Regions from separate parts of the Homo sapiens genome. Here region 2 is reported to be linked to region 1. Evidence: microRNA targets listed by miRTarBase, many of them from high-throughput screens and not tested one by one. Region 1 holds a microRNA gene; the other region holds the end of a gene's coding sequence.

Region 1 (4,386 bases):
CTATTAATAAGGCAAGCAAAAATCCTTTGTTCTGTGTTTGTGTTAGCTTACTAATTTTGTTCTTCAACATGGCAAAATTTTTATCCCTGTCCATGGTCAAACTGCCTATAAAATCACTTTCAATCACAGGTTGGGACTAGTGTGCTAGTATATATGCCTCTCTGCCAAAAAAAAAAAAAAAAAAAAATATGACACTTAATAGAATTCAACTAAATATGCCTGATTGGAGGTGAAAACATCTATGTGACAGATAGCATGTGTTTATCATTGGTCATATTTTTAACTATGGGGTTTTCTCTGATGCTAGTTATGATGAGAAGGAGGAAACAATAAATCAGGTTGCATCTGGATAGTGCTACAGGCACAAAAAAGAGAATCATGTCTTTGAAAAATGTTTGACATTGTGTTTGACTCTTATGAGTCAGTCATAATATAACACTTTATAAAAGCTAGACTTGTCCTTTCAGCTGTTTTATATAGTATCCTCTTAACTTACAGCTTAAGTTAGTTGACTCATTCAGTTTGAAGAATAAAAGGAATAAATCCTCAAAGCATTCTTATCTAAAAGAGAAAGGAATTTTGTTATGCTAATAAGTATCATAGAAAATTTTCCTTTAAAGAAAAGTTCAGCAGGGCCAGTGCCAACTGTTGTGTTGGTAATTGTATTGAACCTTTTCATAGAATTAGTGGGGATTTGAACTCTTTTTTAAAAGTTATAATCTAAAGACTTTTTTATAGTTAGCTCATCATTAATTTTTATGTCAAAACTTGCAGAAGGCCAGGCACGGTGGCTCACACCTGTAATCCCACCACTCTGGGAGGCCAAGGCGGGTGGATCACCTGAGGTCAGGAATTTCAGACCAGCCTGGCCAACATTGTGAAACCCTGTGTCTACTTTAAAAATACACAAAAAAAATTAGCCGGGCATGGTGGCGCACACCTGTAATACCAGCTACTCGGGAGGCTGAGGCAGGAGAATCGTTTGAACCTAGGAGGCGGAGGTTCCAGTGAGCTGAGATGGCGCCACTGCACTCCAGCCTGGGCAACAGAGTGAGACTGTCTCAAAAAAAAAAAAAAAAAACTTAACAGAAAAGTGTGCATTTATGTTTGTATGTGCCCTAGTGTAGAAAAGTAAAATGTACTGGGAAATTAACATGATAGTTTATTGTTTTTGAGTTTTTTTACAGGTATATAGCAATTACTGTCTCATAATTTACATTTTTATATGGAAACATACTTCTGGGTTTCCTTTTGGTTTTTATTTTCTTACCTCTCTACATTCTACTATCCCAATCTGATTAAAAATGAGAAATACTTTTTCATATCTCTTATATTTGTATTTCTTGTCAAACAACACTTGCTTACCCCACAGTGTCAAGAAGCATGTTTTTTTTTAATTACATAAAAGGGTGAAACTAATTATTCAACCAAATAATGAAAACACTAGTAGACTTGGAGCAATTTTTTTTCACTGTGGCACAAGTAATGTTTAAAAGTTTGTATTTGAACTTAAAGAAATTTTGCCCTAAATTAACAAGCCCAACTGAGCAAAGTATTTTTAGACCAGATAGGGTATGGGCAGTAGAAATACAGGATCTTTCATTATTTTTCCTTTGGTGGATAGGGAGGAGGATGGGGAAATATCTCAAGGATAAAATGCTCTAGGTCTTTTATCCATGTGTCCCAGTGGACCACAACTGAAATCAGGACTAACATTACTGCTGGGGAAATGAATGTACTAGTCTTTTGTTATGAATGTGAAACTACTGAACTGTTCATTCAAAACAAGGTTGAGTAAACCCCTGTCAACAGAAACAGAAGAAACCCTGGCTACACACATAAGACTTTCTGAACAATGCACTGTATAATGGGAAAGAACAACAAAATAAAAGTCAGAATCCTGATGGCCCTTAGTCATTTGTAACTGGTGTTAGGCATATCACTTAAAGCCACTGAGTTTCAGTTGGACTCATTTGCAAAGTATGGAATTTTTACTGTGTTGTCTGTTGAAGCCTCTGTGTACTGTAAAACTCCATAATTCTTTGTGTCTCATGTGAGTCATTTCTAGTTCTAAAAGGTAGAATAATAGAGAATTGGTTTGTAACAGCTTGGCAACCAACTGTCAATAACTGGAGTCAATGAAAGCAACTATTTCAAAAGATCAGATTACTTACCAGTTTCACTAATAAAGATTTATTACTTTAAACCTTTATCATAAAATGTATGCTTTGAATACTGTGAAGTACACTGCATATAAGGAGTGTGGTATAGTATAAAGAAACTTTCTGCAGGTAGTAATTATAGTGAAGATTTTAGGTTTACAAAGCCCTAGCTGTTTTCTGTGTAGCTTTTATTATTCTTATGACTCTTGACAAGTTTGTAGCTTCACCATATACATTTAATATTTTGCAATAATTGGCCTTGTTCCTGAGCTGTTGGATTCGGGGCCGTAGCACTGTCTGAGAGGTTTACATTTCTCACAGTGAACCGGTCTCTTTTTCAGCTGCTTCCTGGCTTCTTTTTACTCAGGTTTCCACTGCTTTTTTGCTTTTTTTAATGCTGTATGAAGGTGTTAACATTTGTTTATATTTTTCATTAATTGTAATACCTTTAAATCATGCATCATACTCAGAAATAGGGATTAGAATTTAAGTGACATCTTTGGCCTAATATAATTTACCTGTTAAAAATTTGTGAAAGCTATTGCTTATTTCTTTTCCAAAGTAGATTTGGATGACAAATTCAGTTTGGTTTTGAGCTTATCTAAAAAGCTTAATGTTTTAAGCATACCAAACTCATTAGCAGAAGTCAAATATGTCTCTCCCTATTGCTACACAACTTTTTAGGGATATTGTTATATATGAAAGCATGACATCAAACGGACCTAATACACCTAAATGCATTTGAAGCTACTTGGTCTCGGTTCTTACCAACGATATAATTTAATTTTTTTTTCCAAACGATGATGTTGTTGCATACCTGTGGAAAGCAAAATGATTCTGTGAAACTATACTTTTAGTTTTGCAACCATTTGATAACTTCAAAGATTATCAATGTATTATATCTTTAGTCTTAGCTTTCCAGATAACCCAGAATCATATGGTTCCAAGTTGATTAAGCTTTGTTACCAGCAGACTATGGTAGGATCCTGATGAACGACACTATGGAAGAAACTTGTTAGGATAAACAGTCTTCAATGTGTGCATATTGTTGACAGAATTTGAAGGCACAAATTTAAGAGTAACTAGGGTGTAAAAGGCGAGCAAAGAAAAGTCAGCACTACTGGGTAAGCAGGTGAGGGGGCTTATTGATAGGAGAGTCGGCTATGTCAAATAGGGACTCAAGGCACAAAGTCAATTTCTTTACTGACAACTTTCAATCCAAGTAATAGGAATTTTGTATTTGTAAATTACTAGGTAGTGGCTCTGGCTATTCTTGTTTTTTCATTGATTTCTGTGAGCATTTCTTAGTATGTATTGTGTGATTCAGCATAGATTCAGACATTGTATAATACCTACAAATCCACCTATTTCCCTTTTCCCTTCTCCATTAACCTGCCGCCACTGAAATCTGGAGCCAAATATATCTGGTAAGTACCCACAGATTTCCTTGAGTTGTATAGACTCTTCCATGGAATAGTTCTTTAAATAGCTGTGAGCAATAAACTCTGTGTGACTGTTTTTGTTAGAATTGGTTTTTGTATATGTATATGTTTATTTCAGGCACAGGAGTGAGAGAAGAGGGGATGAGAGATGAGAAGGGATAATCAAGTGTGATGGCAATTGCATCTCCTTCCAAATACACCCATGGGGCTGGCTTTAGTTGAACTTGCCCACCTACTAAAATAGTGCCACAGACAGAAGCCCAAGATTATAAGCTTGAGGTTTTAACAATTTGGTCTTGTAGATGCCTAGTTACAAATAAATTTGGCTTTAGTAAAATGGCTCATCTTTAAAAAAAAAAAAAAAGAAAACTACCTTCACAGTGCTTCTATTGTACAAGCACAGTCTGGAAAAAAAATTAATAGGTACTATTAAGTGAAATAACCTTAGATTCATGGGTATTCTAAGCATTTCTTTAATACTTTTTGTAATTTTTCTGATTATTTCTGTGTTATTAAGAATGCTTTCCTTTAGAACAAATGCTAGTTCAGATCACCTATATAAAATAAAATCAGCCTGTTAATGCCTGTTCAATACTTTTGTGCTGAGCACTGCATTTCCTTCCTGCTCTCTTCTTGGTTAAAGTGAGAGTTAAAAATAGAACATTCTGTGGAGCCCTCCAGGGAAGTTCCTGAACCATCAGTTTATATTGTCCTAGTTCTCTTAGCTTGCAGAATTGATTGTGCTTTCCTCTGAAAGTGCTGAAAGAAATGGGATAATATTG
Region 2 (4,386 bases), not on the chromosome of region 1:
CTGGCCCAGGTGGACACATCTAGTCACATGGGTCTTTAAAAGCAGAAAACTCTTCCTGGCTGTGGTCGGAAGGATGCAGTGTTGCTGACCTTGAAAAATGCAGAGAATGGCCAGGCGCGGCGGCTCACGCCTGGAATCCCAGCACTTTGGAAGGCCGAGGTGGGAGAATCGCTTGAGCCCAGGAGGTCGAGGCTGTAGTGAGCCACAATCACGCCATTGCATTCCAGCCTGAATGACAGAGAGAACCTGTCTCTATTAAAAGAAAAGAGAAGCCAGGCACGTTGGCTCACAACTGTAATGCCAGCATTTTGGGAGGCTGAGATGGGTAGATCACCTGAGGTCAGGAGTTCGAGACCAGCCTGGCCAACATAGTGAAACTGAGTCCCTACTAAAAATACAAAAATTAGCTGGGTGTGGTGGTGGGCGTCTGTAATTCCAGCTACTCAGGAGGCTGAGGCAGGAGAATTACTTGAACCCAGGAGGTGGAGGCTGCAGTGAGTGGAGATCACACCACTGCACTCCAGCCTGGGTGACAGAGCGAGACCTTGTCTCAAAAAAAAAAAAAAAAGTCATTATGATGTGCACACACAGATCACGAGGGTTACTACGTAATGACACATGGCAGATGTCAAAGAATAACTCAGAGACAACTGCACAGAAACAGTTTCTGCACATATGAGGGAGAGCAGCTATGACATTTGGGATCATCTGGTTAGCTGGCAACTTCCCGCATGTCCAGCCTGGGTCATCTGCCCTCAGCACCTGTCCAGGGCAATTAAAGAAAATACTTTAGTTATTTATGGATTTCCTGGAAAGCCCGGATGTTTGAGCTGCAGACTGCATGTGAGCCCCAATCCTTCCATCAGCCTCCAGGTCCACACCACTTCCCCATTCAGAAGTTTCTCAAAACAAAACAAAAAACAAAACTCTCGATCAGCATGTCCTATTAAATAGAAGCTTAGAGAGAAATGGATAAATCTACCATAAATCTACAATTAGGGAAAGATTTCAGCATCCTCCTCAATTATTAACAGACCAGACAGACAAGAAACAAACCAAACAGTAGGTCGTCAGATTTGAACCACACAATTTATTAACAAGCATGATTTGTGGCCTCGTTTATTACCAGCCCCCACCCCAGCACTTGGTGCACATTCTCCTTAAGCGCAGAATTTGGCCTCAAGGTAATATTTTAGGAATAAATAAAAAGAGGCCGGGCACGGTGGCTCACACCTGTAATCCCAGCACTTTGGGAGGCCGAGGTGGGCGGATCACGAGGTCAGGAGTTCGTGACTAGCCTGGCCAACATAGTGAATCACCGTCTCTACCAACAATACAAAAAAATTACCCGGGCGTGATGGCGGGCGCCTGTAATCCCAGCTACTCGGGAGGCTGAGGCAGGAGAATCGCTTGAACCCAGGAGGCAGAGGTTGCAGTGAACCGAGATCGTGTCATTGCACTCCAGCCTGGGCAACAAGAGCAAAACTCTGTGTCAAAAAAAAAAGAAAGAAAGAAAGAAAGAGATAAAATTTCCCCTTAGGTCTGGACCTTTTGATACAAGCCGATGCTCAGCGGGTGTTGTTGACTGACAGGTGGATGAATGGCCCACGCTTGCCGGCAGGTGACACCTCCAGGTGGGTGCTCTGTGGGAAGGGGAGCTGACAGTCCTGGGGGTCCTGCCTGGGGAGCAGTGGGCACCCCAACATTCACCCATGCAGGGACTGGCAAACACACCCCCACTCTGCAGCTCTCTCTGTTACCACCTTGAAGCCAACACGAAGGCCAGACCAGAGCTGGGTGTCCCTCTGTGTGGGCTCCTGGGACAGATACTCGCCTGGGAGAGGTGGGGCTCCTTCTCCCAGCTCCTTCCCCTAGCCCTGGGGTTGGGGTGGACAGAGCTGGGCTGAACTCAGCCCTGGTTCCCAGCGCTGGCTAGCCGGTCCTGCACAGCCCCAGGAGGCAAAGGTTTCCTGGTAGCCCCCACCCCCACCCCGTGGAGCCGGACCCCTCCCCAAGACTCCAGGAGCAGCGGGAGTCCTCAGGACCCTCTGGGCAGGACGGGGCAGCCCTCTCGCTAGCGCTCCCGCCCTGGGCCCAGGACCTGCGCGCCGAGCTCGAGCTCCGCGGAGCCGCTGCCATCCGCCCAGAGATCCCAGACTTTCAAGCGGCCTGAATCCCCGTCTCCACTAGACGGCCCTCGCCCCCGACCACAGACACCAACCACCAGGGCGAGAATGGATGCGAGGCGGGGGAGAGAACAGGACACCCTCCGGGAAGCCGCAGGACCTCTGCTCAGGGAACTAGCGGGGCCCCTCCGGGGACACCGGCGCTGGTGGGCGCGGTCTCCGGGCTGAGTTCAGGCCTCGGGGCCGGAGGAGTCCCACTTGCCAGGGGCGCCCGCCGTGTGCGCTCGACTCGGGGCTTCCGGCGCGGCCCCGCCTCCACCTTCGCGGTGCCCCCACCTCGACGGCGCCCCGCACCGGCGTGAAACCTCCTCGCTGCCCTCTGAGCCCCTTTCGGGACTGGTCATCGCCGCCCCTGCGCTCCTCCCGGGCAGGCCCGGGTTGGGACTGCAGCGGGGCCGGCGGCGGGGACAGAGGATCGGGGCGGCCTGGGGGACTCAGGGCCCAGCCGCGCGCTCAGCCCCCGGCGACCACAGAAGCCACCGGCTGGGCCGGGCGCGCCACAAGGCGGCAGCAGCGGGGCTGCCGGGTGCGTCCCAGACACCGGGGCTGTGGGAGGAGGCGAGAACCGTCCCGAGGCAACCGCCGGCCCCGAGGAGACATGGCGCAAAAAACGCCCAAAGCACCTTCCCCTAAAGCCCCCGTGGGCGCGGTGGGCCCATCCACGGGAGGCGTCCAGGAGGGCTTCCGGGAGGCGGCGCGTGGGGAGTGTGGGGTGTGGGGTCGACTGGCGTGGGGAGGGCGCTCTGCGCAGAGGGTGCGGGTGGGCGGAACTCGGGGCACAAAAGGCCCCAGGGAAAGGGAGGTCGCGCAATCGTGGTGACCAGGGGACTGGCCACGGGCTAAGGGTCCCACGTGCGGAGAAGAGGGGGATGGGGAGAGGCCTAGGCACCTCCCGCTTGCCCCGCGGGCTCTCGGTCACCCAGTAAGCCCAAGCCAGGGCTGGCGGGCCCGGGGTTGGGGGGTCCAGGAAGGAGGGGGAGAGGCTGCCTGAGGCGCCTCCGCCTCCGCTCCCCTCCCCTTACTGTCAAGACACTCCAGCCTTGAGCTCCTGAAAACACGACCTGAGTGAGGGGTGGGGTGGGTGGAGAAGGCAGCCAGAGCCCCAGCACTGTCATGGTTGGCTGTGGCCTCCTCCGGGGTCATCTCCAGGGGGGCCGGAATGAGAACCCCACTTCAGCACTGAGCAACACGCGACCACCCCCAAGAGGCGGGGTCACGTCCCAGCTGTGTGACCCCGGGAATTGTTGGCCCTGAGATCATCCTTGTACCATGGGAACCCACCTCTTGGGGCCACAGGGAGAACGCACCAGACCATGCCTGGGACGCCCAGCAGGGCAATGGGCAAGTTTGGGAGGGAGGTGGCTGCTGTCCTGCCGCCCCCAGGGACAGACTCCGGACTCTGAGGCGGGTGTGGACCTGGAAGCAGAGCTCCAAGCTGATCCGCACCCACCAGCCGGGCAGCCACAAATTCACTAGAAACCTCAGGGGCCTGCACCAGCCCACAAGGTCCCTGGTCGCCCTCCTACTGCCGCCATCAACCCAAACGTCCCGTCCTGCGCCTCCACTACAGGAGGTTCACCGTGGCCACCACCTGCTTGCAGCCGGTGACGGCAAACTCGCGGCCAGCCACGCGGTAGAAGCTGAGCTGCGCGGCCAGGTTCTCCGCGCGGGCCTGGTCAGGAAAGAAGCCCTCACCCGCCATCTCGTCCCGGAAGCAGCTGACCACATCCCGCTTGTCCAGCAGCAGAAACGGCACGATGGCCGCGGCCTGCCACAGCGGATGCTCCCGGGACAGCACAGCCAGCAGGCTGGCGCGCAGGTCTTCTTCCGCCTGCGCCGCTGCGGCCTCGGCACTGCGGAAGCCGTCGGGGCGCAGGGGCAGCGCGCGGGACGCGTTCTGCAGCACGAAGCGCGTGACCTCGGCGCCACCCGCGCCACTGAGGAGCACGTAGATGGCGTTGTGGAAGTGGTGGGAGCGCTGCGGCTGCAGGAAGCCGTGCAGCTCGTCCAGCAGCGGCCGCGGCATGAGCTCCACGTCGTCCAGCACCAAGAGTGGGGTCTTCTCCTCCGCTTCGGCCCGCGCCACCACGTCGGCCACGCGCCGCGCCAGCTCCTCGCGGCAGTCCTGTGCGGCGCGCGCCTCGGGGCAGTGGTGCCGCGCATGGTATTGCAGCACGAGCGCGCTGTCCTCCAGCACCGA

The links. Region 1 holds the annotated microRNA hsa-miR-128-1-5p (CGGGGCCGUAGCACUGUCUGAGA, at 2,443-2,465, shown strand). A microRNA usually pairs through its seed, bases 2 to 8, with sites in the 3' UTR of a target mRNA and lowers its output. Matches are read on the target gene's strand: a 7mer-m8 pairs with bases 2 to 8, a 7mer-A1 pairs with bases 2 to 7 and ends in A, and an 8mer does both.
Region 2: miRTarBase lists TOR4A as a target of hsa-miR-128-1-5p. Seed matches in the 3' UTR shown: 7mer-A1 at 3,472-3,478, 7mer-m8 at 3,337-3,343, 7mer-m8 at 2,578-2,584 and 7mer-m8 at 2,366-2,372.

Annotation. Positions count from the first base shown.
Region 1 is chr2:135,662,969-135,667,354 of GRCh38, forward strand. MIR128-1 (microRNA 128-1) reads left to right here and starts at 2,429; the gene lies at 2,429-2,510. All of the region lies in intron 19 of R3HDM1 (R3H domain containing 1), which reads left to right. LOC124907893 (a long non-coding RNA gene) reads left to right here. Exons shown (of 2, transcript XR_007087245.1): 1 at 1-3,589. RefSeq lists an enhancer at 1,747-1,846.
Region 2 is chr9:137,279,326-137,283,711 of GRCh38, reverse strand. TOR4A (torsin family 4 member A) reads right to left here. Exons shown (of 2, transcript NM_017723.3): 2 at 1,071-4,386. The coding sequence ends at 3,751. Among named protein-coding and RNA genes, the nearest start is that of TOR4A, 3.8 kb to the right of the region's middle. RefSeq lists a silencer at 2,521-2,760.